Linked DNA regions of Homo sapiens. The protein of the gene in region 1 purifies or fractionates together with the protein of each later gene. This does not show direct contact. Each region holds a gene or a part of one and is shown in the gene's direction. Other genes may lie near its edges. The genes, in order: CCT3, EIPR1, TUBAL3, WDR70, DCAF7, HDAC3 and DCAF13.

Region 1 (3,500 bases):
TGAAAGCATTCCCAAGGGGAGAAAAACAACAGAGCTAGCCACATCCTATATCTAAAGTGGCATGCTATGTCTAAAGTGATGGCTAACCATGCTTTAGGGGTGTCATTAAAAACACTGACTCTGGCTGGGCGGAATGGCTCACGCCTCTAATCCCAACACTTTGGGAGGCTGAGGCAGGTGGATCACTTGGGCCCAGGGGTTTGAGACCAGCCCGAGCAACATGGTGAGACCCCATATCTAAAAATAAAATAAAATTAAAATAAAATAAAACACTGACTCTGTGGGTTGTTCATGCCCCTTTTCCCTATTACTCCAACATTTCTCACACTGTCCTCTGATTTGTGCTTGCGTATTTTATGTTCCCTTTCCATTAGACTATTGCAGATATCATCCGAACATGTTTGGGACCCAAGTCCATGATGAAGGTAGGCTTATCTCTTCCTAAAACTCTTAGGCTACAATTTTTTTCTTCCTGTTATCTAGGACACTTTAAATATAACTTTTGCTTTCATCTTAGATGCTTTTGGACCCAATGGGAGGCATTGTGATGACCAATGATGGCAATGCCATTCTTCGAGAGGTGTGTTTTGTTTTTGGTTTTGTTTTTTTGCTTTCTGACAGTTCTGTAAACATAAAGGACCTGTTAAGATACAGGCTCTGATTAGTTTTTTAGGGCTGCTATAACAGATTACCAGAAACTGGTTGGCTTCAACAACAGAAATTTATTATCTTATAGAATGAAGCTAGAAGTCTGAAATAAAGGCGTCAGTAGGGCCATGCTCCTTCTGAAGTCTCTAGGGAAGAACTCCGCTTCTCCCTTCTGATGGTTGCTGGCTTTCTTTGGCATGAACTTGGTCTCTGCCTTGGTCTTCATGTTATTCCCCTTGTGTGTCTCTTACACAAGGACACCGGTGATTGGTCTTCGAGCCCACCCTAATTCAGAATGACCTTATCTAACTTGGTTACATCTGCAAAAACCCTATTTTAAAATAAAGTAAAATTCACAGGTTCTGGGAGTTATGACTTCAACATATCTTTTTTTTTTTTTTTTTTGAGACGGAGTCTCGCTCTTGTCACCCAGGCTGGAGTACAGTGATGTGATCTCGGCTCACTGCAGCCTCCGCCTCATGGGTTCAAGCAATTCTTCTGCCTCAGCCTCCTGATTAGCTGGAATTACAAGCGCATGCCACCACACCCGGCTTAATTTTTGTACTTTTAGTAGAGACAGGGTTTCCCCATGTTGGCCAGGCTGGTCTCGAACTCCTGACCTCAGGCGATCCACCTGCCTCCGCCTCCCAAAGTGCTGAGATTACAGATGTGAGCCACCATGCCCAGCTGGCTTCAACGTATCTTACTGAAGAACACAATTCAGCCACAATAGTGCTTCCAGTAAATAAGCTAAAAGATATCGTTCTGTCCTCTGGCAGCTTTAATAGTTGAGTTCATGTAATACACTTTTTCCCAAAAAGGATTTGGAAAGTGGTTTACTTAAGCTATTTGGGGTGCCAATTTTAATCTTTCAAGATATGGTAAAACATTAAAGGGAAAGTAAGTACGTATAGAAGCAAGAAGCCCAAGAGTTAGGGCCAAGCTTCATGAGTTCAGAGGTCTTTGAATAGTGTGAATTCACTAGTGATCTACCTTTTTAGATTCAAGTCCAGCATCCAGCGGCCAAGTCCATGATCGAAATTAGCCGGACCCAGGATGAAGAGGTTGGAGATGGGACCACATCAGTAATTATTCTTGGTAAGAGGAGAATAAGAGGTTGATAAGGAAAAATTAGAAGTAACACCTGTGTCATATTTTAAGAAGGAAATTCTGTTACAGATCCACTAATTACAGATATTTAAATAGCTTATTGGTTATTTTCTATGTATTCTCTCCAGTTGGGTATAAAACATTTATATGAATAGGGTGAGCTATGCAAATCTGGCTGATAAACTAATAGTTAATTCTCTTTATTCACTGTAAGTTATAATATTCTTTTTTTTTTTTTTTTTTGAGACAGAGTCTCACTCTGTCACCATGCTGGAGTGTGGTGGTGCGATCTTGGCTCACTGCAACCTCTGCCTCCCAGGTTCAAGCGATTCTCCTGCCTCAGCCTCCCAAGTAGCTGGGACTATAGTCACGTGCCACCACGCCCAGCTAATTTTTGTATTTTTAGTAGAGACAGGGTTTCACCATGTTGGCCAGATGGTCTCGATCTCTTAACCTCGTGATCCGCCCTCCTTGGCCTCCCAAAGTGCTGGGATTACAGGCGTGAGCCACCACGCCTATAAAGTCACCACAAACACTGAATTGGCAAATAATAAATCATTGCTTCTATAGGAAATACAGGGTTAGATACCTATAAGCCTCTGGTCACACTTTCATCAACTGATAAATATATACCTTATTGTATGTGTTTGTCTTCAAGACACCCATTTAATATATATAGTTGATTTATTAGCATTGAACTCATAGCCCATAGCAATATAACTCATGCCTGGACAAAGCTCACCTAACGTATTTTCTCTGTAAGGCACATCACAGCCTTCTTGCACATAGAAGCATTAGCTAGCACTTAAGCACTACACTTGTGAGCCATTATAAATACCGAAATCATCAAGAAAAATGTGAAAAACATAACCTTAAATATACTGCATAAAGGACACTTTTTTTTACAGTGTGAGAGCTAAAGGCCTTGTTTAACCTCACCTAGGAATGTCATTGGGTGACTCAAATTTTTTGCCATTCTGTGAATTTCCATGAATGACTATGAAAGTGTCATGAATGTTGATTTTGGGGTTACAAATAATAAGAAATGAAATCTTTAGGATAATGACCCTGGGCTATGTAAGTTTAAAGACTAATCTTTCTACTTCCTATAGGATCATAAAGAATTATTTTTCAAATCTTGGCCTATTGCCTTTATTGTGTAAATGTCAAGATGATAGTAAAATTTTTATACTAGAAACACTGGTTTTAAAAAATCTGATTGCAACCAAGTGTGGTGGCTGACACCTGTAATCCCAGCACTTTGGGAGGCCAAGGTGGGCAGATCACGAGGTCAGGAGTTCGAGACCAGCCTGGGCAACATGGAGAGACCGCGTCACTGTAAAAAATAAAAATCGGCTGGATGTGGTGGCACACACCTGTAGTCCCAGCTACTGGGGAGGCTGAGGTCGGTGAGGCAGGAGGTTGAGGCTGCAGTGAGCCGTGTTTGTGCCACTGCACTCCAACCTGGGCAACAAAGCAAGACCATGTCTCTTTTTTTTTTTGAGATGGAGTCTCACTCTTGTTGCCCAGGCTGGAGTGCAATGGCACAATCTCGGCTCGCCGCAACCTCCCCCTCTCGGGTTCGAGCGATTCTCCTGCCTTAGCCTTCCAAGTAGCTGGGATTACAGGCATGGGCCACCATGCCTGGCTAATTTGTATTTTTAGTAGAGACGGCGTTTCTTCATGTTGGTCAGGCTGGTGTCGAACTCCCGACCTCAGGTGATCTGCCCGCCTCTGCCTCC
Region 2 (3,036 bases), on another chromosome or scaffold:
GAGACAAACAAAAACAAACAAAAAAGTCACCCAAGCTGGTGTGCAGTGGCACGATCATGGCTCACTGCAGCCTTGACCTCCTGGGCTCAGGTGATCCTCTCACCTCAGCCTCTCAAGTAGCTGAGACAACAGGCCCATGGCACCATGTCTGGCTAACTTTTTGTAGAGACAGAGTTTTGCCATGTTGCCCAAGCTGGTCTCAAACTCCTGAGCTCAAGTGATCTGCCCACTTCAGCCTCCCAAAGTGCTAGGATTACAGGCATGAGCCAGACTCTGTTGTTTTTCTGTTCAAACCTTAGAAACTCGGTCTGCCATAGAATAGTATTTAAGCACACGCACGGTAGCATCTGCCCAGTGGTCTCTCGGTGCCTGTGGGCCTGGCTCCCTTTACCGTCCTCTCTGCCAGTGGCCCAGGGAGTCTGCACTTCCTCACCATGTCTGTCCCTGTTAGGGGAGGAGCCTGATGGGCCCGTTGGTCGGAAGACTGCTGGCGTTGTCTTCTGGGCGGCAATGTCATGGGAGCAAGATAGGAAGGGAGGAGGTGATCGGGGCTACGCAGACTTCTTAGGACATCCCTCAGTCCTGATGTCCTGCTGCATTCAGGAAACCATGATTCCTCCTAAGGATTTGCACCTGGCATTTGTCCCACAACAGCAGTTGACCACTGGCAGGTCCACTTTGTGGGAAGCCAGCTTCCCAGAGACCATGCGAGTTCTGGAGGGTCCGTCTTGCTGGGGGGGTGAAGCATTTTCCTACAAAGAAATGCAAAAGCAGTTAGAATGCGGTACACAAATTATGTGGGAATTTTTTTGTGAAATGGGAAGTAAAGTGCCAGAGAAGCCTGTGTCCACCGGAAAGTGGCCGCTGTGAGCCGGGCAGGGCCCCCTCCCCATGCACGCTGTGCTGAGGAAGTGGTGCTTCTTGTGTGAGGATCCCCTGGTCAGGGCTCCCAGTGAGGGTAACTCACAGTCAAGGGAGGCGAGGTGGGAAACACCCTGGGGGAGGCCAGGCAGGTCACGCCTCTGCTGCTCCCACAGGGCCAGGGCGTCTTCCTCTTGGTGTCCTGGGGGATCCTCAGCCCAGCCCCACTCCCATCCTAGCAAGGCTCCTTGTGCCCCAGCCTCTGACTCCTACACAGCCAGGAGCTGGACCCGCTGCTTCCCAGGGTCCTTTCTGCTCAAGCAATAGGGGCGTTTACATCCTGTGTTACCCAGACACGGTGACTACTTCCCCCAGTCTTTCCCCTGAGCTAAAGGAAGCCCTTGGAAGACCTCCAACAAAATATCAACCCAGGCACCCGGGGGCCAAGGACAGAAGAAACCAAGACACCATGTGCCAATGTCGCCGATTTCCATAAACCTTTTGAGAAATGCCCACTCCTCACAGTGACAGTGAGGGTTTCTGGGCTTCTGCAGGGACCACCCCACCGTCCTCGGTGTGGGCTCCTCTAATTCTTCCCATCCCACAGCGGAGAAAGCTGAGGCCCCAGTACCTCCCGTGTCTCCCGATGTCAGCGCTCGCGTCCTCCCTGCCCCTCTCCTGCCCGCCCCGCCGGAGCTGCTGCGCTCACGTCTGCCTCTGTTGCATTGCAGGAGCAAGGAGCCCCTGCAGGACAACGTGATCGCCACCTACGAGGAGCACGAGGACAGCGTCTATGCCGTGGACTGGTCCTCGGCTGACCCGTGGCTGTTTGCCTCCCTGAGCTATGACGGGAGGCTCGTGATCAACAGGGTGCCCAGGGCCCTGAAGTACCACATCCTGCTATGACTCCCGGGCCTGGGTTATCCAGGTCCCATTGAGTGGTTTTCCTCTTGGCAGATTCTCAAACAGTCGCAGCTCTTTGGAGGTGACTCGTGTTCCAGGTGGATCCCTCTCTGGGAGAGCCGCTGTTCCCTTCCTGTAGCAGCAGCATTTATGAATGGGGTGAATGGGGCTATTGTCGACGGCACAGCTAATGCCCGAACCCAGCCCCTGTCGGCAGAGACAGAGCCCCACATTATTATGTGAATAACAATGTTTTCTGTTTTAAGGGTGTCAGGAGTTTCGCTTTTTAAAAAAATGTCTGTTCCTGCAATAGTAACTCTTCTTTCTCTTGAGAGTAAAAAATGAAATAAAATAAATCCACGCTGCACAGGTGCTCGGCTCATTCTTTCAGGAGCTCTGCCCTGTGACCCCATCTCCTGGGTCTTTGTCCATTTTCTCTTTCCTGACCCAGGGAAAATGCAGATGGACAGACGTGTGCTGTCTACGCCGCCCTAGCATGGAACTCCCGGGAGCCATGCTGGCTGCTGGTGGGCACCTGGCTCGCGCCCTGGGCTGAGCTGGTGTGATGCATTTTCACTGCTGTAGACGCAGGCTCTGCCCGCCCTGGGCCTCCCCTGGTCTCTGCAGCCCATCCTGTGCTGTGTCCTGCCCACCTTGTGAGCCGGGCAGGGCCTCCTCCCCACGCGCACGCACTGGTGGCCTTGGAGGTGCCGTCCTCCCTCACCTCGGAGCTTGGGGTTGGGCTCCCGCGTCTCAGTTGTCGGGGACCCCTCACAGGCTCCTACACTCATCAGTGCTTATCCTTAGGAATCCTCAAACACTGACCTCGCAGCCTCTGTTCGTGGTTCCTTTGGGTGTGCGGGGTCTGTTCTCTGTGTCTGGTGCGTGTTCCCACTGGAGAAGCCACCTGGGCCCTGGACTCTGGGCTCCATCTCCCTTAGGCCTCCACCTGGCCAGGTGTCCCCGCAGGGGCCACTTCTGCGCTCTGCTGCCCCGATCACCTCATCTGTAATGATGGGGAAGGATGGGCTGAGCTCACAGGCCCATCAGCTCTGGGGTTTGACGATTCTAGGACAAGTCTTGCCCGACCTGCAAAAAGGACACGTTCCTGCTGCAGCGCCCCCGCCAGTAGGTGTACCGTGCTGCTAAGGACGCTCTGCACCCAGAGGGCCGCATCCTGGATTTTCCTTTCATAGATGAGAGTTCACAGCGAAGTGGAGGCCATAGGGGGAGAGGTGAAAAGGTGGGGTCCTGGGCGAGGGGACAAGTATG
Region 3 (5,132 bases), on another chromosome or scaffold:
CTGGCTTAATTTTTCTTTTCATTATATGGAACTACCAGGATGCTAAACATTTGGGGAGTTATTGACAGAGACAGATAGGATTGACTTTATGAAGATCAAAATGAGAGAAAGTATAATTTATAATAAGTTCAGGAGAAAATTGCTGAAGAACACTATGGTTTCTTCATTTTCTCAAAGTTGTAAGGAAGAATTGGTAGAAACCAAGATTCTTGAGTAACAGAAATTTTGTTTTGATTACTGAATAATAAAATTGTTACTATGCTAACAAAACATGTCATTAATTCAAAAGAAGATCAGGAAGAAAAGAGAACTTAGAAAATGGAGACAAACAGAAAGCACAAAATAAAATAGTACTCTATATCTAAACCCAACTATATTAGTTATTATATTAAATGTAATGAGCTGAATTCTCCAATTCAAATACAAAAATAGAAAAAAAATTCAGTTATATCATGCATACAAAGAACACATCCAAAATATGAGAATATGGAAAGGTTTTAAGTTTCTAAGAATGTAAAACGATGGGAAAATACATCATTCAAATGTGAACCAAAAAACTGTATTAAAGTAGTAATATTAATATTTGATCATAAAAACTTTAAGGTAGGCCAAGGCGGGCAGATCACGAGGTCAGGAGATCAAGACCAGCCTGGCCAACATGGTGAAACCCTGTCTCTATCAAAAATACAAAAAAATTAGCTAGGAATAGTGGCACACACCTGTAATCCCAGCTACTTGAGAGGCTGAGGCAGAAGAATCGCTTGAACCTGGGAGGTGGAGGTTGCAGTGAGTTGAGATCGCACCATTGCACTCCAACCTGGACGACAGAGCAAGACTGCATCTCAAAAAAAAAAAAAAAAAAACTTTAAGGTAAAAATAATTAATGTATATAAGGAGGGTAATTTAAAAATAAAAAATTGTTAAAGTTTTTGAAAATATAATAATTTAAAATTTATGTGCTCTTCATAACATGGCCTCAAAATGTATAAAGGAAAAATTGACAGAAAAAGAAATAATGGGTAAATTCACAATTATAATGAAAACTTTTAATACATCTTTTGAAATAATTGATACGTAAAATTTGGACTACACAATAAATCCATTTGATTTAATAGATTGATTGATTGAATGATCGGTCTATCTAAAATATTGCATCCAACAAATGTAGAATGCACATTCTTTTCAACACTCATGGAATATTTTCAAAAATTGACCATATAGTAGAATATAAAGGAAGCTTTAGCAAATATATAAGGAGAGAACTCAGTTAAGATGTGTGATCTGATCTTAGTGCAATTAATAAAAAATAATAACATAAGTATATATTATGTATAATAATATAAAAGTTCAAAAGACAATAATAATAAAAACAGAAAATTCCCATATGTTTGGATGTGGTAGTGGTTGAGAGGCATGCATAGGACACAGATGTAAAAAGGACACTGTCTTGGTTTGCTGTATGTATTCAGGGATTGTTTAAATTTATTTAAGAAGATATTCACATAGTACTCATGCAATAGAAAAAGCTACTTTGCTGTTGCAGAAAATTTTACTCATACTCCTTCCTTTTCTCTGCCAATGCTAAATAAATTCTTAACCCAAAAGGGTGATTTTTAAAAGACACATGTTCTTTTCAACATAGTTATAAGTTGGACGCAGATTTGGATAAGCTCTCAGTAGTTCATCTGCAGCTGTGTACAAACTTTATCCCGGGTTGTTCAGGCCCAACACAGCTACTCTGAGACCAGATAACTAAAAAAACTAAAAAGAAGCTATACTGCTTTAAGTGAAGAAAGCTCCAGCCCTCAGGTGGAGTCATTTCCGGGCCCTGTGATAAAGCTCAGCTGGGAGGCTCCTCAGTCATTACTACAGGGCAGGAAGGGCACGTTCTCATCAGCATGGTAAGTGACTACACGCCTATGCATTGTTGTAGGAAATTTTACTAATCATATTTGGCCCTTTTCCCACAGCAAACAATTCTTAATAAAATTGTAATGCAAGAGAAGACATTTGTAAAGAAACATTTGTTTCTTTCAATGTCCAAGTAGATGAGTTGGGAGCAGATGTGGACAGGCTGTAATCTATTCCTCTGTAATGTTGCTTCTTTCAAGGTAAAGCTCAGTTGATTTGCAGTAGCTCACTGCCATTAATTGAAGCACTGAAGCAAAAACCTTTCCTTCCTTTAGTTTTCACCTTTGTTTTAGGCCCAGAGTGCTGATTTTTCTGTAGATATTCATTGCTTCACTTTTCGTTAGGCTGTTAAGAGTTTCTGAGGACTTCAGACTTAGGTAACCGTGGCTAACCTCATAAATGCCTGGCAGGGTAAAGTGCGCAGACATCTTCTTTGCCCTCCCTTGAGTTTAGTTCTTTGGGCACCACAATGAATAGAATAACTTACAATAATTCTGTTTTGGGATGACCTTTTCAGATCCATTTGCCCTTTATTTTTTTCTGTGCCAGTTTTTCAGTATCTTTGAATTTTTAATTCTTCAATGGAAGCAACATTTCGAACTGCTTCTTGATCTTTGATTTCTCACCCCATTGGTCTCTCTGTCCAACATTTAAAAAATTTTAAATTGTTTTGCTTTTAAAAATTATGCCTTTCAACATGAGAGAGACTTGTGATAATAGCATGTTCTGTATCTTATCACTGTCAACATTCTGGGTGTGATTTTGTATTATGGTCTTGCAAGATGTTTCCACTGCGGGAAATGGGTAACGGATGCAAGGGATCTTCCTATGTTATTTCTCACAGCTGCATATCAATCTACAAAGACCTCAAAATTGAAAGTTTAACTGAGAGTTATGCTTTTCTAGTAATTCAAATAATCCTTATAGCAGCGTTTAATAATGTGCTATGACTTATCAGTGTTGACGTTCAGTGGACATTTTATAGTCTTCTACTTTATAGTGTGACTAATATTTTCATAGAGAATTTGGAAAAAAAGGGAGAGGCTAAGAGAAGAATAAGGCAAAGATAGTCTTCTACACCCTTGGACAGAGTTATGTTATAAGCTAAGCTCCTTCAAAGACGAAGGATGCTTGTTAGTCCAGGCTATTCGTGCTGATTTCAAAAAGAACAGCATCACTCTGCTTTCTGAGTCACTTGAACAGACCACGTGAAGAGGAACAATCTTTTTTTTTTTTAATGTTAGTGATTATTTTTACTGTGACTATTATGAACAAATACCACATGTACACCTGAATTTTACTCGTCACTGTAACACAGGACTGGGTGGTAGCCAGTGGAGAAGACAGAGAAATCTACATGTAAACTTTACAAAGTAAGAGGTTTTAATGATGTAGAAACAATGAACGTTCACCCTCTCCTTTTAAAATGTTAACTTAAATTTAAGGAGCCAAGTTTTGATCAGATTACAGCAGCTGATGTATTTGCAGCACTTTAAGTCCGACAGAAGGGGAGAGGAATAAGATTAAGGTTATCTGAAGCCTGATAAGGGGTATTCGAAGCCTGTTTATAACAGAATATGCTGTCTTGAGAGGTGGAATATTAGTTTGTCCTAAATGAAGTGCTTTCTAAATTAGAGAGACTGATAGTTGCACAGAAAATAAACAAGATGGAAGCCCTACTAAGGTAGTGAACTTGAATTGGTCATGAAGCAGAGGGCTGTTATGCCTTGTGAATCACAGAGACAAAGTACAAAGGTTTGATGCCATTGAGCATGAACAGAGTCCAAGTCAGATTGCAGGGGTGTGGCCGACCAGAGCCCTCTCCTTACTTTCCTCTGACTAGTGGTCTGTGTAGACCAGTGGTCCTCAACTTTTTGGCACCAGGAACCAGTTTTGTGGGACACAATTTTTCCATGGAGTCGGCAGTGGGGATGGTTTCTGGATGAAACTGTTCCACCTCAGATCGTCAGGCATTAGTTAGATTCTCATAAGGAGCACACAACCTAGATCCCTTGCATGCGCAGTTCACAATAGGGTTAGTGCCCCTATGAGAATCTAATGCTGCCGCTGATCCGACAGGAGGCAGAGCTCAGTCAGTAATGCTCACTCACCTGCTGCTCACCTCCTTCTGTAAAGCCCAGTTCCTAACAGGGCACAGACTGGTACTGGTCTGTGGCCCGGGGGTTGGGGACCCCTGTGTAGACCACAGGTGAGGGATTGACAGGAGGCCTGAGGTCTTTCAGTAGTTGAATCTCAGGCTTTAGGGCAGTGTAGCCATGAACAAGGGCAGGGCTCCCCTCAGCTTATCTGGTCAAACAGCCCAAAGGGTCCTGATGATGCAGAAGACATGGGGGTCTCATTCTACAAGACCCTCTAAATAGATTTGTTTCAGCACCACAGTCAATCAAACCACACCAATATTAAGAACAGCGATTGCTATCACCTCAGATTTCTTAGAATTTAGCTTTTACTTTCCTTCTCATTTTTTTTCTTTCCTTCTCTTAAAAACGTAGATCATTGTCTGTTTAACAGAATAGTTGTTTGCCTTAAAAAAAAGATGATTTAAAGTGGGATGGGGGAATATGAAGGTGGAAGAAATAGTAAAGTTTAGACAAGAAAATAAAATCACTACCCAGATATTACTAAACTTAATATCTTGATGCATTTTCTTTTAGATTTTTATGCCTATTTTTGAACATATTGGACATCATACTCTATATGCAATCATGCATCTTATGTGCTTTTTACTTAATATGTTATCATAAGCATTTCCCATGTCATAAATCTTTTTTTTTTGGGAAAACGTTTAAGGGTTGCATAACATGTCATTGTGTTGATGTAACATCCTTTAAATGCTCAACAATATATAAATGGTTAGATTAAATAGATTGGTTTTTGGTTTTCATGCTTATGAATTGTGATGCTTGTGAATGCCATCAGCCTACATCCTTGCATTTTAGAGTCTTTCTTTTGTAATTTGTTTGTTTATATCATTTGCCTAGCTAGTGGATGTCTTAAGTGTTTTTTTTTAGAAAGTTGATGTATATAAAATCAATTTTTATCTCTATATGTTTGTTATAAAACTTTTACATTTTGGAACTGTTAAATCTATTGCATTTTGCCTTGTAAAATTTCCCACTAGTTTTAAGTTTAGTATATCCATCCTTATTCAGAGTGCATATGAATGGTAAAGATAACATTTTAAATTTATCTGCGATGAG
Region 4 (4,361 bases), on another chromosome or scaffold:
GGTCAGAAGTTTGAGACCAGCCTGGCCAACATGGTGAAACCCCATCTCAACTAAAAATACAATAATTAGCTGGGCATGGTGCAGGGGCCTGTAATCCCAGCTAGTCGTGAGGCTGAGGCAGTGGCTTCAGTTGAAGTCGGGAGGCAGAGGTTGCAGTGAGCTGATATACCCCCATTGCACTCCAGCTTGGGGGACAAGAGTGAAATTCCATCTCAGAGAACAAAGAGAGAAAAGAATGTTGTTATGCTACTTATCACTGTTGTTTTTTTTTTTTTTTGAGATGGAGTCTCGCCCTGTTGCCCAGGCTGGAGTGCAATGGCATGATCTCGGCTCACTGCAGCCTCCACCTCCCCGGTTCAAGCGATTCTCCTGCCTCTGCCTCCCGAGTAGCTGGGACTATAGGCACATGCCACCACGCCCAGCTAATTTTTTGTATTTTTAGTAGAGATGGGGTTTCACTGTGTTGGCCAGGCTAGTTTCGAACTCCTGACCTTGTGATCTGCCTACCTTGGCCTCCCAAAGTGCTGGGATTACAGACGTGAACCACTGTGCCCCGCTTTTTGTTTTTTTGTTTTGTTTTGTTTTGTTTTTGAGATGGAGTCTCGCTTTATTGCTGGGCTGGAGTGCAGGGGTGCGATCTTAGCTCACTGCAACTTCTACCTCCCCGGTTCAAGCAATTTTCCTGCCTCAGCCCCCCAGGTAGCTGGGACTACAGGTGTACGCCACCACGCCCAGCTAATTTTTGTATTTTTAGTAGAGATGGGGTTTCACCATGTTAGCCAGGATGGTCTTGATCTCTTGATCTTGTGATCTGCCTGCCTCCTAAAGTGCTGGGATTACAGGTGTGAGCCACCGCACCCGGCCCAATTTATCATTTTAAGACCAACAATGGGCCAGGTGTAATGGCTCATGCCTGTAATCCCAGCACTTTGGGAGGCTGAGGCAGGTGAATCACGTAAGGTCAGGAGTTCGTGACCAGCCTGGCCAACATGGTGAAACCCCGTCTTGACTGAAAATAGAAAAACTATCTGGGTGTGGTGTTGGGCCCCTGTAATCCCAGCTAGTAGGGAGGGTGAGGCAGGAGAATCGCTTGAACCTGGGAGGCAGAGGTTGTGGTGAGCTGAGATCGCACCATTGCACTCCAGCCTGGGCGACAAAAGCAAAACTCCATCTCAAAATAAAAAAAATAAAATAAAATAAAATGGGCGACAAGAGCAAAACTCCATCTTAAAATAAAATAAGATAAAATAAAATATAAAATATAAAACAAAATAACTAAAATAAAAAATAAAACGTTGTACAGCAGCAATATCCAGTATTTGGCAGTGTGCCTGACAAAAAATATTTTCAGTCTTTGGAAGAAAACTTTTTGTGGTGAAAAGAAAGCCATCTACATGTACTATTTTTTGAAAAAAACCTTTCATTATTTGTTTTATTTGAGACGGAGGCCTGCTCTGTCGCCCAGGCTGGAGTGCAATGGCGTGATCTCAGCTCACTGTGACCTCCGCCTCTTGGGTTCAAGTGATTCTCTTGCCTCAGCCTCCTGAGTAGCTGGGATTACAGGTGACCACCACCACGCCTGGCTAATTTTTTTGTATTTTTAGTGGAGACGGGGTTTCGCCATGTTGGCCAGGCTGGTCTCGGACTTGTGACCTCAGGTGATCCGCCCGCCTCGGCCTCCCAAAGTGCTGGGATTACAGGTGTGAACCACTGTGCCAGGCCAAAACCCATCATTATTATTATTATTGTTATTTTTTTGAGATGGCGTCTCGCTCTGTCGCCCTGGCTGGAGTGCAGTGGTGCGATCTTGGCTCACTGCAAGCTCCGCCTCCCGGGTTCATGCCATTCTCCCGCCTCAGGCTCTGGAGTAGCTGGGACTACAGGTGCCTGCCAACACGCCTGGCTAATTTTGTTTTTGTGTTTTTAGTAGAGATGGGGTTTCACCGTGTTAGGCAGGATGGTCTCGATCTCCTGACCTCGTGATCCACTCGCCTTGGCCTCCCAAAGTGCTGGGATTACAGGTGTGAGCCACTGCACCCAGCAAAACCCTTCATTATTATGTGAAATTTCAAACACGGAAGTATAGTCATGAACTACCATGTACCTATCAATCAGATTTAACTACTGTAACAGTTCATGGCTAGCATTACTTCGTTTCCCCTTTCAGATGATTTCGAAGCAAATCTTGGACATCATTTTACTCATAAATATTTTTGTATATACCTTAAAACGATAAGGATTGTTTTAAAAAAAGCTTAACCAAGATACCTGTAAGAGATAGGAAAAACCAAGTTGTTTCCTATCCTCTAGCACTCCTCTCAGTACTTTCCCCCCTTTTTTTTTTTTTTTTTTTTTATTTGAGACAGGGTCTCACTGCTGTTGCTTAGACAGGTGTGCAGTGGCATGACCTTGCCTCACTGCAGACTCCACTTCCCAGGCTCAGGTAATCCTGCCACCTCAGCCTCCCAAATAGTTGGGACTATAGGTTGGTGCTACCACACCCCACTAATTTTTTGTATTTTTAGTTGAGATAGATTTCACCATGTTGGCCAGGCGCAGTGGATCACGCCTGTAATCCCAGCACTTTGGGAGGGGCGGATCACGAGGTCAGGAGATTGAGACCATCCTGGCTAACATGGTGAAACCCTGTCTCTACTAAAAATACAAAAAATTAGCTGGGCGTGGTGGCGGGCGCCTGTAGTCCCAGCTATTTGGGAGGCTGAGGCAGGAGAATGGCGTGAACCCTGGAGGCAGAGCTTGCAGTGAGCCGAGATCTTGCCACTGCACTCCAGCCTGGGCGACAGAGTGAGACTCTTGTCTCAAAAAAAAAAAAAAAAAAAAAAAAAAATTTCACCATGTTGTCCAGGCCAGTCTTGAATTCCTGGGCTCAAGTGATCCACCTGTCTTGGCCTTCCAAAGTGCTAGGATTACAGGTGTGAACCAGTACTTTATTTCTGACACCAGATATGTAGGAGTTTTCCCCCACACATCAACCAGTTCTCCAACTGGGTATCCGGTAACTCAGTTTAATTCTGACACCGTCTGCCTGGAGACTACCACAAGACTGCCTTCACTCAGACACTAATCTCAATTCACAGGTTGTGACCAGTGCTTCTAATCTACTGGCTATAAATCAGGGTTCCCATGACCGCTCTTTTTGGTTTGATAATTAGCTAGGACGGCTCACAGGGAAACACTTTACTTGCGTTTAACAGTTTATTATAAAGAATATTATAAATGATACAGATGAACAGCCAGATGAAGTAATGCACTGGGCAAGGTATGGGGTGGGAGAGGTGCAGAGCTTCTGTGCCCTCTCTGGGTGCACCAACTCCCCAGCATACCCCTGTGTTCAGCTACCCTGAAGCTAATCACATCTAGTGGTTCAGGAGTGTCTAGGCTGGGTGCAGTGGCTCACACCTATAATCCCAGCACTTTGGGGGACCAAGGTAGGAGGATCACTTGAGCCCAGGAGTTTGAGATAAACCTGGGCTAACACAGTGAGATCCCATTCAAAAAATCTTACAAAAATTAGCTGGGCATGGTGGTGCACACCTGTAGTCCCAACTACTTGGGAGGCTGAGGTGAGAGGGTCAGTTGAGCCCAGTGGTTGAGGCTGCAGTGAGCTATGATCATGCCACTGCATCACAGCCTGAGTAAAAAAGCGAGAGCCTGTCTCAAAAAAAAAAAAAAAAAAAAAAAAATTTCTACAGATCTTAATTTTCAGCTTCTCCAGAGATTGGTGGGTGGGGATGAAAGTTCCAATTATCTAACCCATCAGTTTTTTAAGTGAGCAGCAGTCCCATCCTGAGGCCTAGGGGTCCAGCACTAAGTCACTTCAATAGCATAAACTTAGGTGGGATCCAAAGGGGCTTCTAATGAATAACAAGAGACAGCTCCTATCACTTAGGAAATTCCAAGGGTTTCAGAAGCTCTGTGGCAGGAACCTGAAACAAAGACCAAATATATATATATATTTTTTGAGACAGAGTCTTGCTCTGTCGCCCAGACTGGAGTGCAGTGGTGCGATCTCGACTCACTGCAAGCTCCGCCTCCCGGGTTCACGCCATTCTCCTGCCTCAGCCTCCTGAGTAGCTGGGACTATAGGTACCGGACACCATGCCTGGCTAATTTTTTTTTTTTTTTTGTATTTTTAGTAGAGACAGGGTTTCACCCTGTTAGCCAGGATGGTCTCGATCTCCTGCCCTCATGATCCGCCCCCCTCAGCCTCCCAAAGTCCTGGGATTACAGGAGTGAGCCACTGCACCTGGCCAAATATATTTCATATTATACCACAATATCATCACATCAAAAAACAATTTTAATATCCTCAAACGATGGACAAAGACATGCTATCTGAG
Region 5 (4,361 bases), on another chromosome or scaffold:
GAAGGTAAGCCCTGTTACAAGACTTCTAGAGTTGACTGCTGCTAAACCAGGGGTCAAATGAAGAGTTTGTCCCACAGAGAGGACCAGTAAGGAACTTCTGGAAACCCTCTTGGCATCAAGTTGAACAAGCGGCTACATTTTAGTTATATGACAACTTAGCCTGCTGTTGTCTGTTAGGTCCAACCCAGAAAATGGGAACTACTCTTAAGTATTTGAACTGCAGGGATTTAATCCAGGGGCTGCTTATACAGAAGATGGTAAAGCTGAGAAGCCACATAGGTAGCAGTGAGGTCATCCATAGAATGGGAGCAGCAGGAAGCTGCAGCTGCCTATAGGCCAGAGGGACCATGGGAGGAGGCAGGGTTCCTGGAGCCCAGGGGCTGGATTTACCTGGCAGAGACGCTTCTAGGAACAGAGAGAGGGGAGGAGAAATACCTTAGCTTTTCCCTGCCTCCCATCATCCATTTTCCCACCAAAGCCTCCCATGGCTGAACCAGCCAGAAGCAGCCAGCAGATCTGAGACCCTGCCAAATGCACGCTGTAGGAATCAGTTCTCTTGTGACACAGAGAAGAAGAGCAGGGAGAAAGGCCAGGAATGGATCTTGACAGCAGACAGGCCTGGACCGGCAGCCTTGTCTTGAAGGAATAAACCTGAGAAAGGATAGTGGCTCTAGAGAAACAGTAATAGCACCTTTCTAGCACCTTTGATTTTTCTCAGTCCACCTTTCTCTAGGAAAAGACTTGTTTGGAAGGCTCTCATTGATACCTGGCAGATCAGTGTAGAAGAGGGTTTAGTGTACTTGGGAGTTGTCACCTTCCCTTGGTTTCCCAGTGAACCATGCTAGCGGAGCACTGAAGGAGCAGTCACTTAGAGCCGAGAGAGCATTACACACTCAGCCACGCTGCCCATGGCACCTGTGGGATCTCTGTCCCTGAGGGTTACCAGGAGCTGTCATTGGGGGGTATACATATTGATAAACATGGCTGTGCCTTAAAGCAGCTGTACAGTACTAGAGAAAGCCTCGATCTGTCAGGCACGTCAGGCCTGAGTGCCTCCTTGTTGATGACTGGCCCGGTCCCTTTTGAACCACTTCTACTTCCTGCCATAGAAAGACAAGCATAATTTCTTCATAGCCAGAAAAAAAAGGAATTCGTGAGGTTAAATAGCAATAGATGCTCATTTGGCAGTGCCCCTCTGTAGGCAGAACTTCAACACTGGAGCTGTAATATTTAGTGAGAAATTCTAGTCGTGTCTCCCCAGAAGTCAGCTGTTATTATCCCCAGAAGATGAGTTTTGTTTGGCATTAGTTTTTCTGTTTCTCTCTCTATTTGTCTGTCTCTGGCTCTCTCTTCGTCCCTCTTCGTCCTCTTTTTTTTTTTTTCTTTAAGACAGAGTTTCGCTCTGTCCCAGGCTGGAGTGCAATGGCCTGATCTCAGCTCACTGTAATCTCCGCCTCCCGGGTTCAAGCGATTCTCCTGCCTTAGCCTCCCATGTAGCTGGGATTACCGGCACCAGACACCACACTCAGCTAATTTTTTTGTATTTTTAGTAGAGATGGGGTTTCACTGGGTTGGCCCGGATGGTCTTGATCTCTTGACCTTGTGATCCGCCCGCCTCAGCCTCCCAAAGTGCTGGGATTACAGGTGTAATCCGCACCCGGCCTTCGTCCTTTCTCTGAAGCTCTCCGTTGCTCTCTGCCTCTGTTTCCTCATAGACGTTAGTGATATGCAATGTTTGCAGCAAATAAAAGCAGAAAACAGTGATTCAGAACCTAAATTGATTCACTTATGATCTCAAACCAACTAGGAGAAGAAAAAACATGTCCTAGGACAAGCGGGTGCTACTAACCTATTTGTGAATACAGGAACATCTAGGCCTCCCGTGACTCAAAATTTCTGTTACCTCTTTCTTGCAAATGAGTCTCAGGTCCAGGTTTCACAGAATCAGCTTGGCTGCTATTAAGTGGCCACAGGAGGGCTGCTTTCACCTCTGTGATTGATGATCTAGGCCTTAATGAGCTCGTAGACCTGCCTCTGATTGTGCACAAGGCCCAGGAAATAAGTGTCTCATTCTTGTTGTGTGGCAGAAGACAGCCACTGTTCTGTTGGTCAGCAGGGCATGTGCCTTTGTTTTATCACGGGTTGGAGGAAGAAGACTTGGAAAGCAGGAATGTGGGAAGAAGCCAGCCAATTTCTATAGCAGAATGATCTTCCATCTTTGGGAAGCCACTGATATTAGAGCTCTCGGGTTTCAGTACTCACAGACACTGTTTGGGCTTCATTTATCTGCTTTTGTGTCATGAGCGAGGTTTAGATGAACTGGACGTGGCAGATTTCCCTCCTATAGGAAGAAGAGGTAATGGATCTGAATCTGACTGGAGCTTCTTGTTCACCAACAGGTCTATGATATTGCATTTAGCCGGGCCGGGGGTGGCAGGGACATGTTTGCCTCTGTGGGTGCTGATGGCTCGGTGCGGATGTTTGACCTCCGCCATCTAGAACACAGCACCATCATTTACGAAGACCCACAGCATCACCCACTGCTTCGCCTCTGCTGGAACAAGCAGGACCCTAACTACCTGGCCACCATGGCCATGGATGGAATGGAGGTGAGCACTCCTCTCAGGCTACCATGGGCCCTGCCTAACTCCAGCACTGCTTAGTATATCTAGAAGGCTGGTTCTCAACTGGAGCAGTTTGGCTCCCGGAGTATCTTTGGGAATGTCTGGAGGCATTTTTGATTGTCACAGCTCTAGAGACGCAGTTGGTACTATGGCATCTAGGGGGTAGAGACCAGGGAGGCTGCTAAATATCCTACAGTGCCCAGGACAGTCCCCCAGCAAAGTATATCCTACCTAAAATGACAGCAGTCCCGGGACTGAGAAAGCCTAATCTGGAATAAGAATTACTTGTTAAGAACTTTTAATTTTTGAAGAGTTGGAGTTAGAGCCAGGAAAAGCAATATCTAAAGAGTAAACCAAATCGTATGTGCCTATGGTGCTGAGTGAAAAAGCAGATTTTCCCTTCTGTAGTCTGGACAGATTCATCTAGCTTTAGCAAACAGATGTAGAAATGGCAGCCCTCTGGCCGGGCGCTCTGGGTCACGCCTGTAATCCCAACACTTTGGGAGGCTGAGGCAGGTGGATCACGAGGTCAAGAGATGGAGACCATCCTGGCCAACATGGCGAAACCTCGTCTCTACTAAAAATACAAAAATTAGCTGGGTGTGGTGGCATACGCCTGTAGTTCCAGCTATTCGGGAGGCTGAGGCAAGAGAATTGTTTGAACCTGGTAGGCAGAGGTTGCAGTGAGCCAAGATCGTGCCATTGCACTCAAGCCTGGGAGATAGAGCAAGACTCCATCTGAAAAAAAAAAAAGGCCAGGCACGGTGGCTCACACCTGTAATCCCAGCACTTTGGGAGGCCAAGGTGGGCGGATCACAGGTCAGGAGATCAAGACCATCCTAGCTAACACGGTGAAACCCCGTCTCTGCTAAAAAAATACAAAAAATTAGCCGGGCGTGGTGTCAGGCACCTGTAGTCCCAGCTACTCGGGAGGCTGAGGCAGGAGAATAGCTTGAACCTGGGAAGCGGAGCTTGCAGTGAGCGGAGATCATGCCACTGCACTCCAGCCTGGTGACAGGGCATGCTCTGTCTCAAAAAAAAAGAAAAACAAATGGCAGCTCTCTCTAGTCTGTTACTTGATTAAAGAGGTGAATTGTGGGTGGGGAGAATGCATTGGTTGTCCTTGGTTTGGTGGCGCTAGCACCTCAGATTCTGCTTTGGCTGGGCTCTCATTCCATTCATCTGAGATGCATAGAATTCTTACCACATGCACCTGCTGGGACCCAGGATTACCCAGACTCCTGTTGTCTGTTTCTGCATCTCCCCTATCAGTCTAAAGGCCCAGTGTTGCTCAAGATAGAGACTATCAACTACCCGTGTCCTTTGTCTTCTTTTCCCTCAATCCTATGGAAATCCTGTCTCTAGTTCTTTAAATCCACAAATGAAAAATTATGCCTAAAAAGATTTTTGCATGTGGATAGTATTTTTTGTTTTTTTCTATGAAACTCTGATGATCCCAGGCCTTTTACTTGTTATTTCCGCAGGTGGTGATTCTAGATGTCCGGGTTCCCTGCACACCTGTCGCCAGGTTAAACAACCATCGAGCATGTGTCAATGGCATTGCTTGGGCCCCACATTCATCCTGCCACATCTGCACTGCAGGTAATCATGGTGGGGAGAAAGAAATCTGGGAAGGATGGAGGAAATCTGTTCTCTTGGCTCCTTAGAATTGTAGTTGTTACTGTTTTCTAAGCACAGTCTTGAGAGATTTATACAAAATGACTAGTTGGAGCCTCT
Region 6 (4,096 bases), on another chromosome or scaffold:
ATAATTGCATTGTGGTTATGTTTTTTTTTTTTTTTTAAAAGTCTTTATCTTTCTGAGATACATACAAAATATTTGTAGATGGAATGAATTAGGGGGGAAAAAGGATAGGATGGAATTTTTTTTTAATCCCAAAACTTTGCTGAAAAATGAAAGGGAAAGACAACAGAACCAAGAAGTGCAGAAACAGATGCACTTAATGGGGAACAGATTTCCTTACATGACTGAGGGATAACCACAGCTGGACACTTGTGGGACACGCTGTCTTGCTCCCACGCAGGGTTAGAGGTTTGAGCCGGCTCTGCTGCAGAGCCTGATGGGCTTCTCAGCCCCTTCTAGAATCTGCTTCTGTCTTAGAATTCAGGCCTCCGAATCTCTCCTCTGGACCTGGGCTTTACTGCTCTGACTCTTGGGGATCTCTGCAACTCTCTTCCTCCAAGGATATCCCCCGATCCCTTCTGAGTGAGGAAGTGTCTGAACATCTGGAAGTGTCTGGCTTCAGGGCTTCCAGGACTATTGGAAATTGCTTTTCATTGTCTGGTTTGGTTTGGTAAAACCTGTTTTTAAGTTCTTCCTTTTGGGTTTTTTATCAATAGCTCCAGGCTGGCATCTGGACCTAGTCTCTGCATTATAATAATACCAAGCCCTGTCACAGCCAGCAGAAGCCTCAGGCCTCTTCCTGTTCCTAAGCCCTACCTCTCTGTCAGGCCACCCACTGAGTTTCTGTTCTTCTTTGATGCCTATAGCTCCAGCTTGCATATGACTTGCAGAGTAGAAATAGGAAGAGTTACCACTTTTTGTAGGTTTGCCAAGCACCAGACACTACTAAGTGCTATCTATTACAACATATATATGATCATTCTGTTGCCATCAGACAACTCTGATGGCTCTTATTTTCAGATTAACACGGGAGGAATCTAAGGCTCAGAGAGTCTAAGTAACTTTCTTTCTTTCTTTTTTTTGAGACGGAGTTTCGCTCTTTTTGCCCAGGCTGGAGTGCAATGGCATGATCTCAGCTCACCACAACCTCTGCCTCCCGGGTTCAAGCGATTCTCCTGCCTTAGCCTCCCAAGTAGCTGGATTACAGGCATGAGCCTCCACGCCTGGCTAATTTTTTTTGTATTTTTAGAAGAGATGGGGTTTCTCCATGTTAGTCAGGCTGGTCTCGAACTCCTGACCTCAGGTGATCTGCCTGCCTCGGCCTCCCAAAGTGCTAGGATTACAGGCTACAGGTGTGAGCCACCGCCCCCGGCGAGACTTAAGTAACTTTCTGAAGGTCACATGGCTAGTTAAAGATCAGGGCTGAGATTCAACCTGATTCTCTGACTCCACACCTTTAACCCTGTGCACTTAGAAGTAACTGAGACATTGCTCACCATGCAGATAAGGCCTTTCCTGGCTTAGTGCCTCAGCTTCTCTTTGATGACTTTCTCAATTCTCTGTGTCCCAGAGAATACTTTTTCTTTTCTTTCTTTTTTTTTTTTGAGATGGAGTCTCACTCTGTTGCCAGGCTGGAGTGCAGTGGCTAATCCCGGCTCACTGCAACCTCCGCCTCCCAGGTTCAAGCGATTCTCCTGCCTCAGCCTCCTCAGTAGCTGAGATTACAGGCATGTGCCACCACACCCGGCTAACTTTAGTATTTTTAGTAGAGACGGGGTTTCACCATGTTGGCCAGGATGGTCTTGATCTCTTGACCTTGTGATCCACCTGCCTTGGCCTCCCAAAGTGCTGGGATTACAGGTGTGAGCTACCACGCCCGGCTTTTGAGAATACTTTTTCAAAAAGAAAGAAACCAATATTGAGTACCTGTTGGGCCCTGTTTTGCTTTCACATCCATTCTTTCACTATGGGTTTATAATACCACGTCACTCTTCTTAAAATTAAAACTCTCCTTTACCTTGCACTTAGAAGAAAATCCAAAATTTTGACTGTGGCTTAAAAAGGTCCTGCATGCTAGCCCTTACCTACATCCAGGATCTCATCTCTAACTACTCTCCTCCATGCACAGTGCTCCCGGCTGTCCTGGCCTCCTTGTTCTTACTGGAATACATCAGTCTCTTTCCATTTCATGACCTCTGTAGTTGGTTTTCTTGCAGCTTGGAATGGCCTTCCTGAAGTCTTTGCCTGCTTAGCTCCTCCTCAGACTTTAGGTCTTATGTCCCAATAGTCCTGTCTGAAATTTCACCCTTTTCCTCTCATCACCTTCAGTCCTATCACTTCATTTTATTAATTGTACTCTCCATCATCTGAAATTATTATATTTATTTACTTTGTTAGTTACTAGTCTCATTTATTAGGTAAGCTTTTTGAGGATAGACAACCTTGTCCAGCTTGTTACTCTACTGTATTGCTAAGGTTTATGACAGTGTCTGTATAGAGTAGTTCCTTAATGTTTATTTGATACGTGAATGGGTGAATGAATAGCAGTCTCTACCAACAAGAGGAGGAGTGGTTCTCAACGGGGCCTGAGAAATGGCTTTGGAAAAGGGTGCTGGGAGAAGATTAGAACTTAGAGTGAGATCCTGACCTCTCTCCCCTTGCTTTGCAGGCCAGAGGCACCCAATGAGTTCTATGATGGAGACCATGACAATGACAAGGAAAGCGATGTGGAGATTTAAGAGTGGCTTGGGATGCTGTGTCCCAAGGAATTTCTTTTCACCTCTTGGTTGGGCTGGAGGGAAAAGGAGTGGCTCCTAGAGTCCTGGGGGTCACCCCAGGGCTTTTGCTGACTCTGGGAAAGAGTCTGGAGACCACATTTGGTTCTCGAACCATCTACCTGCTTTTCCTCTCTCTCCCAAGGCCTGACAATGGTACCTATTAGGGATGAGATACAGACAAGGATAGCTATCTGGGACATTATTGGCAGTGGGCCCTGGAGGCCAGTCCCTAGCCCCCCTTGCCCCTTATTTCTTCCCTGCTTCCCTCGAACCCAGAGATTTTTGAGGGATGAACGGGTAGACAAGGACTGAGATTGCCTCTGACTTCCTCCTCCCCTGGGTTCTGACTTCTTCCTCCCCTTGCTTCCAGGGAAGATGAAGAGAGAGAGATTTGGAAGGGGCTCTGGCTCCCTAACACCTGAATCCCAGATGATGGGAAGTATGTTTTCAAGTGTGGGGAGGATATGAAAATGTTCTGTTCTCACTTTTGGCTTTATGTCCATTTTACCACTGTTTTTATCCAATAAACTAAGTCGGTATTTTTTGTACCTTTCGCCTTTCTAGGAATGTTAATTCTTGCTAGTTTCCTATTTATGAAAGGAGAGGGAAATGGGCATGATGATGCATGTAATAAAAGCATAGTTAACATTCATTCAGCACTTATCCTACGTTAGGCCCTGTGTATGTATTCTACATTTATTATTGTAAATATAAGAAGTTAATAGAGGATTTTGGTTAAGAGTTAGACAAACCTGGGCAGATTTGAGAGGAGTAGAAGATGACTTCAGGTTTTTGAATCTGGGTGTTTAGAGTAGTGATGCTAGTTGGTGAAGATACACTGAGATAAAACATGTTAAGTGCTTAGCACAGTGCCTGACAGAAGAAGTTGCCCATTATCTGTCTATGTGAAGAACAATGCTAAATACTGTAGTAGCCACAAACATGAACCTTTCTCTAGAAGAGTTTACATTCCAGTCAGTAGTATGATAAATATTGTAGCAGATACAGACTGATACAAGAAAGAGGACTGATAGATGGGTCACTTCCTCCCCTCCATTCTCTGATTCTGTCTGTTCTCAACACTAGCTTAGAAAGTAGCTTTTGGACTTTTTAGACAAAATGTCTGGAAAGCTCAGCACTAAGTCAAGTTTGAAGTATGGGATGGACAGCTCTATGTAACATTCTATCCGATCACCATCAGAAGGTCTGGACCACAAGAGAGATGAATGCCAAATTTAGGAGCCAGCCAGCTTGGCAGAGTCCCTGGTATATCTCAGGCCCTTGACTAGGTACTGGGGCTCTAGAGTAAGTAAGTCACTGACTCTGCCCTTCAGGAACTTATGCTTGAAATCTTGCTAGCTGTGGTCAAGAATATTCAGTCCATATTGTGAAGGCCGACTGGTAGCCACGTAACTGTCACACAAGGGACAGATGTAGCTGGG
Region 7 (4,361 bases), on another chromosome or scaffold:
TTTTTAAATATACAGTTTGGTGGCATCCAGTACATTCACATCACTGTGCAACCATCACCACCATCTGTCTTCAGAACTTTTTCATCATCCCCAGCTGAAACTATAGTCATTAAACAATAACTCCTCTGTCCCCTCAGTCCCCAACCCCTGGTAACTACTATTTTACTTTTTGCCTCTGTGATTTTGACTATTCTGGGTACCTCATATAAATAGAAGCATATTTTAAAGAATTATACCATTTTGTGTATGTGGAATAAGGCTTTTGGGTCTGGCTTATTTTACTTAACATAATTGTCTTCAAGGTTTATCCATGTTGTAGTACATGTCAGAATTTCCTTTCTTTTTATGGCTAAATAACATTCCATTGTATGTGTCACATTTTGTTTATCCGTTCATTCATCAATGAGCATTTGATTTGTTTCCACCTTTTGGCTATTGTGAATAGTGTTGCCGTGACCATTGGTGTACAAATACCAATTCAAGTTCATTGAAAGTCTTTTTAAACAAGGGGAACGACAAAATCTGAGCTGTGCTTTGAGTTAAGTAATTTGACAGCAGTTAGTGATCAGTTTGAAGGCCATTTTAATAGTTTGGCAGGCAATAATAAGAGGCTACCTTATTATGGAGACTGAAAACTAGAAATCAGTGGTTGATACTTTGGAGGATTGACAGGTTTGACAACTGAGAGGTGCCTGGGAAGAGGTTGGTTCCTGTTGCTGAGGAGTACCAGCAAGTTTTGAAGGGTGGCAATGGGAAGGATATGATGTGACAAACTGGACTGCTAATGGGCTGTTCGAGTGAAGATGTCTGTCATACCTTTACAGATGCAGGTCTGGAGCTCAGGAGGGAGGTCAGAGCTGAACTTGACATCATCAATATAGAACTAATCATTGAAGCCATAGTATGGCATCATTGGGAGGAAATGAGGAGGAAAATATAGAAATACAAAGATGTCAAGGAAGTAGCCTTGGGGAATGCCCACCTCTGGGAAGTGGGAAAACTCTAGGAGTAGCCAGAGCTCAAAGAATCTGTGAATGAGCATAGTGTCCTAGGAGGAAGGAATAGTCAGTTTTGTGAACTACTACAAAGAATAATGAAAAATGAAGACTGAGGAAAACATTTTAGAAATGTAGAGATGTAAAAAATAGAAAATTAAAGATTGCATAATTCTAGTCTTTCACTTCTAACACTATTAGTTTGGTGTATGTCTTTTCAAGTGTTTTGACCTACCTATACAACAGTTTTTGTATACACATGCGCTAATCAGTCAAATAGATCTTCCTTATTCTTTATTTACTGGTGACTTTTTAAAAAACAGGTTGAGCTGAGTTATAAAATGTAGGTTGCAATCCAGGTTGGCTGGGTGCAGAAGCTAGATTGCAAGAGAATAATAAAGGGAAAAGATGACTTCTGGGAAACCTGATAGCTACAATTTGAAAGATTGTCATGTGAAAAAGAAAATAGACTAATTTGTTGCTCCATAGAGAGGCACTGGAAATAGGTGTTAGTGTTAAAAGATTCGGTTTTGGTGTAAAAAAAAAAAACTTATTTGCTGTCAAAAAGCAGAATAGGCTACCTTGCAAAGCATTCAGTTACTTTTCACTAGAGGGGTGCAGATAAGCTGCCTGACCCTGCAAGCCCAGTGTTGTGCAAGGAATTGATTGGCAAGTGGGAATGGATGGCACCTAAGGCTTCTTACACTTGGTTATTCTCTTGGATATATTGATTAATAGCTCAGCCAGAGGACTTAGTGTATTTTTTTTTAATGCTTAAAATGAATAAAGGCTCATTTGCAGCATTATTCACAATACCCAGGATATGGAATCAACCTAAAGTGTCCAGCAATGGATGAATGAATTTTAAAAAAAAAAGTACACACACACACGCACACAGGAATACTATTCAGCCTTCAGAAAGAAGGAAATCCTGTCACTTGCAGCATACATGAATGAACCTGGAGGACATGATGCTAAGTTAAATAAGACAGATACCACATGATCTCAGTTGTGTGGAATCTAAAAAAGCCAAACTCTTAGAAATGGAGTAAAATGGTCATTACTAGGGGCTTTGAGGGAGGGAGATTGGGGAGATGTTGGTCAAAAGAGACAAAATTTCAAATAGATGGGATGGATGTTGTACAACACTGTGATTATAGTTAATAACAACATGCTCTCTTGACAATTGCTATGAAAGTGAATTAAATGTTCTCACCACAAAATAATAAGTATGTGAGGTAACAGATATGTTAATTAGCTTGGTTTATCCATTCCACAGTGTCTACGTGTATCAAAACACAATGTTGTACATCATAAATATATATCTTTTATTTGTAAATTAAATAAAAAACATTTTAAGAAATGAATAAAGACTGAAAATGTTTCATATTCACCACTTATTTCCCCCCACTTTATTTTTTTAAAGAGACAGAGTCTTGCTACGTTGCCCAGGCCGATGTTGAACTCCTGGGCTCAAGCCTGTCTCAGCCTCCCAAAAAGTGTTGGGATTACAGGCATGAGTCACCATGCCCACCTTATTGTTTCTCGGTTTTTCAAAAAGATTTTTTTTTTTTTGAGATGAAGTCTCCCTCTGTCGCCCAGGTTGGAGTGCAGTGGCATGATCTCTGCTCACTGCAAGCTCTGCCTCCCGGGTTCACGCCATTCTCTTGCCTCAGTCTCCCCAGTAGCTGGGACTACAGGTGCCCACCACCACTCCCGGCTAATTTTTTTATTTATTTTTATTTTTAGTAGAGACAGGGTTTCACCGTGTTAGCCATGATGGTCTCGATCTCCTGACCTAGTGATCCACCCGCCTCAGCCTCTGAAAGTGCTGGGATTACAGGCGCGAGCCGCCATGCCCAACCAAAAAGATATTTTTGAGTAATGTGTGCTTTGTCAGAGATAAGACACATGTGAAGACTACTTGCTGGTACAACTTTAAGAATGTTTTTAAAAATTTTAGTACACAGTGTTGCAAAACATAAACTTTTATTACCTAAAACTTCACTAAGATATACCAGTTTGTAATACCAACAATTCCTTCTTCAGCATAACCAGCCTGGAGATGAGATGTTCTAGCCAGGCACATATTCTTGTTCGGCTACTCATTTCTATAAAATGAGAAAACCCTTCCCAGAATTGGTGGTCCGCTGAGGTTTGTACTCAGTAGACGGCAGAACAGCTTGGTCATTTACAAGCAAATTCAGTCTTGAGCTTGCAGACACTATCAGAAACTTGATGGAGGGATAGCGTCTTCAGGAACGGGGTGCTCAGGGACACAGTTTATCCTGTATTCTGTAAGTGCTAAAATGTCTCTTTGGGTCAAGCCAGATCAGTCAAGACCTGGTACCTAGATTACATCTTAGTCTCCCAGTAGAATCAGGTTTCTAGAATTGAGTTTTAGTATAGTGCCAGTGGCTCAGATTCATAGTTGTTAATAAGATGTAGCCCTATTAAATACTTTTTGTCTATAACAAGGATGTAGTTAAGGATTCTGTTCATCGACATCCTCAACAAAAGACATCGCTGTGTAATCTTAGTACCAAAACCTTTCCTGATCACTTATCTGTTTTCATCTCATGGGCACTGTAAACTGTTTTGCAAGAAGCGTTTTCCTTTTTGAATTTGCTGTAAGAAAAGAGCTACATTCATACTCTTCCCTTAGATAAAGATATCTTTGTTAATGATTTTATCAAAAAGTGGATATAGATTGCATCTAATATATAAATGTAAGATTTTAAGTTAAAACTAGCAGTTTTGTATGTATGCAGTTATACAGTACCACATTTATGATTTTGTTTTCAACCTCAAACTACATTATATGTTCTGTTTTGTAGTCTGTTTCACCTGATAGCTTAAACATGTCTGCCAAATACCCATGTCTAAATTACCATAGTTTGTTGCTTTGCCTTGATTTGGGCTAACGTGCCAACAGTTTTGCTCACTGTTGCTTTTTTACTATTTGTGCAGCTGTCAGCACAGTGAAAAGACAAACTATGTCTTTACTAACATTATGAAAATAGTTTTGACTGTGTGGACCCTGAAAAGTTCTCAGGGTCCTCCAGAGGCCCAAAGTTCACAGTTTGAAAACCACTGACTTAGTAGTTTCTGCAGTTCATGCAGAAAAGGACTTTATCTATTTCAATATTATAACAATGCCTTCTCTCCAGTATTTTCATGTTTTTCATTTTATTTTTTACATTTAAAATTACCTGGAATTTTATTTTCACATAAGGCATCAAATTGGCTCAATTTTTTTGAATGACTAACCAGATATTATAATACCATTTTTTATAATCCATTTTTTCTCCAAGTTGAAATGCCATGTTTATCACAATATGCATGACCTAACTTTGCCCCTGTTCT

The links.
Region 2: the proteins of CCT3 (region 1) and EIPR1 purify together in Homo sapiens (affinity purification with mass spectrometry; 3 studies listed by BioGRID and IntAct, with this or other methods). This does not show direct contact.
Region 3: the proteins of CCT3 (region 1) and TUBAL3 purify together in Homo sapiens (affinity purification with mass spectrometry; 3 studies listed by BioGRID and IntAct, with this or other methods). This does not show direct contact.
Region 4: the proteins of CCT3 (region 1) and WDR70 purify together in Homo sapiens (co-immunoprecipitation; 3 studies listed by BioGRID and IntAct, with this or other methods). This does not show direct contact.
Region 5: the proteins of CCT3 (region 1) and DCAF7 purify together in Homo sapiens (affinity purification with mass spectrometry; 5 studies listed by BioGRID and IntAct, with this or other methods). This does not show direct contact.
Region 6: the proteins of CCT3 (region 1) and HDAC3 purify together in Homo sapiens (affinity purification with mass spectrometry; 3 studies listed by BioGRID and IntAct, with this or other methods). This does not show direct contact.
Region 7: the proteins of CCT3 (region 1) and DCAF13 purify together in Homo sapiens (co-immunoprecipitation; 3 studies listed by BioGRID and IntAct, with this or other methods). This does not show direct contact.

Annotation. Positions count from the first base shown.
Region 1 is NC_000001.11:156,331,793-156,335,292, reverse strand, and holds part of CCT3 (T-complex protein 1 subunit gamma), read left to right. Parts: intron 1-374; coding exon 375-425; intron 426-517; coding exon 518-580; intron 581-1,649; coding exon 1,650-1,746; intron 1,747-3,500. UniProt on the Homo sapiens protein: Component of the chaperonin-containing T-complex (TRiC), a molecular chaperone complex that assists the folding of actin, tubulin and other proteins upon ATP hydrolysis.
Region 2 is NC_000002.12:3,188,065-3,191,100, reverse strand, and holds the end of EIPR1 (EARP and GARP complex-interacting protein 1), read left to right. Parts: intron 1-1,592; coding exon 1,593-1,767; 3' UTR 1,768-2,131; downstream 2,132-3,036. UniProt on the Homo sapiens protein: Acts as a component of endosomal retrieval machinery that is involved in protein transport from early endosomes to either recycling endosomes or the trans-Golgi network.
Region 3 is NC_000010.11:5,401,559-5,406,690, reverse strand, and holds the start of TUBAL3 (tubulin alpha chain-like 3), read left to right. Parts: upstream 1-1,862; 5' UTR 1,863-1,898; coding exon 1,899-1,901; intron 1,902-5,132. UniProt on the Homo sapiens protein: Tubulin is the major constituent of microtubules, a cylinder consisting of laterally associated linear protofilaments composed of alpha- and beta-tubulin heterodimers.
Region 4 is NC_000005.10:37,381,840-37,386,200, forward strand, and holds part of WDR70 (WD repeat-containing protein 70), read left to right. Parts: intron 1-4,361.
Region 5 is NC_000017.11:63,581,103-63,585,463, forward strand, and holds part of DCAF7 (DDB1- and CUL4-associated factor 7), read left to right. Parts: intron 1-2,399; coding exon 2,400-2,609; intron 2,610-4,108; coding exon 4,109-4,226; intron 4,227-4,361. UniProt on the Homo sapiens protein: Involved in craniofacial development. Acts upstream of the EDN1 pathway and is required for formation of the upper jaw equivalent, the palatoquadrate. The activity required for EDN1 pathway function differs between the first and second arches.
Region 6 is NC_000005.10:141,619,987-141,624,082, reverse strand, and holds the end of HDAC3 (histone deacetylase 3), read left to right. Parts: intron 1-2,545; coding exon 2,546-2,615; 3' UTR 2,616-3,202; downstream 3,203-4,096. UniProt on the Homo sapiens protein: Histone deacetylase that catalyzes the deacetylation of lysine residues on the N-terminal part of the core histones (H2A, H2B, H3 and H4), and some other non-histone substrates.
Region 7 is NC_000008.11:103,421,467-103,425,827, forward strand, and holds part of DCAF13 (DDB1- and CUL4-associated factor 13), read left to right. Parts: intron 1-4,361. UniProt on the Homo sapiens protein: Part of the small subunit (SSU) processome, first precursor of the small eukaryotic ribosomal subunit.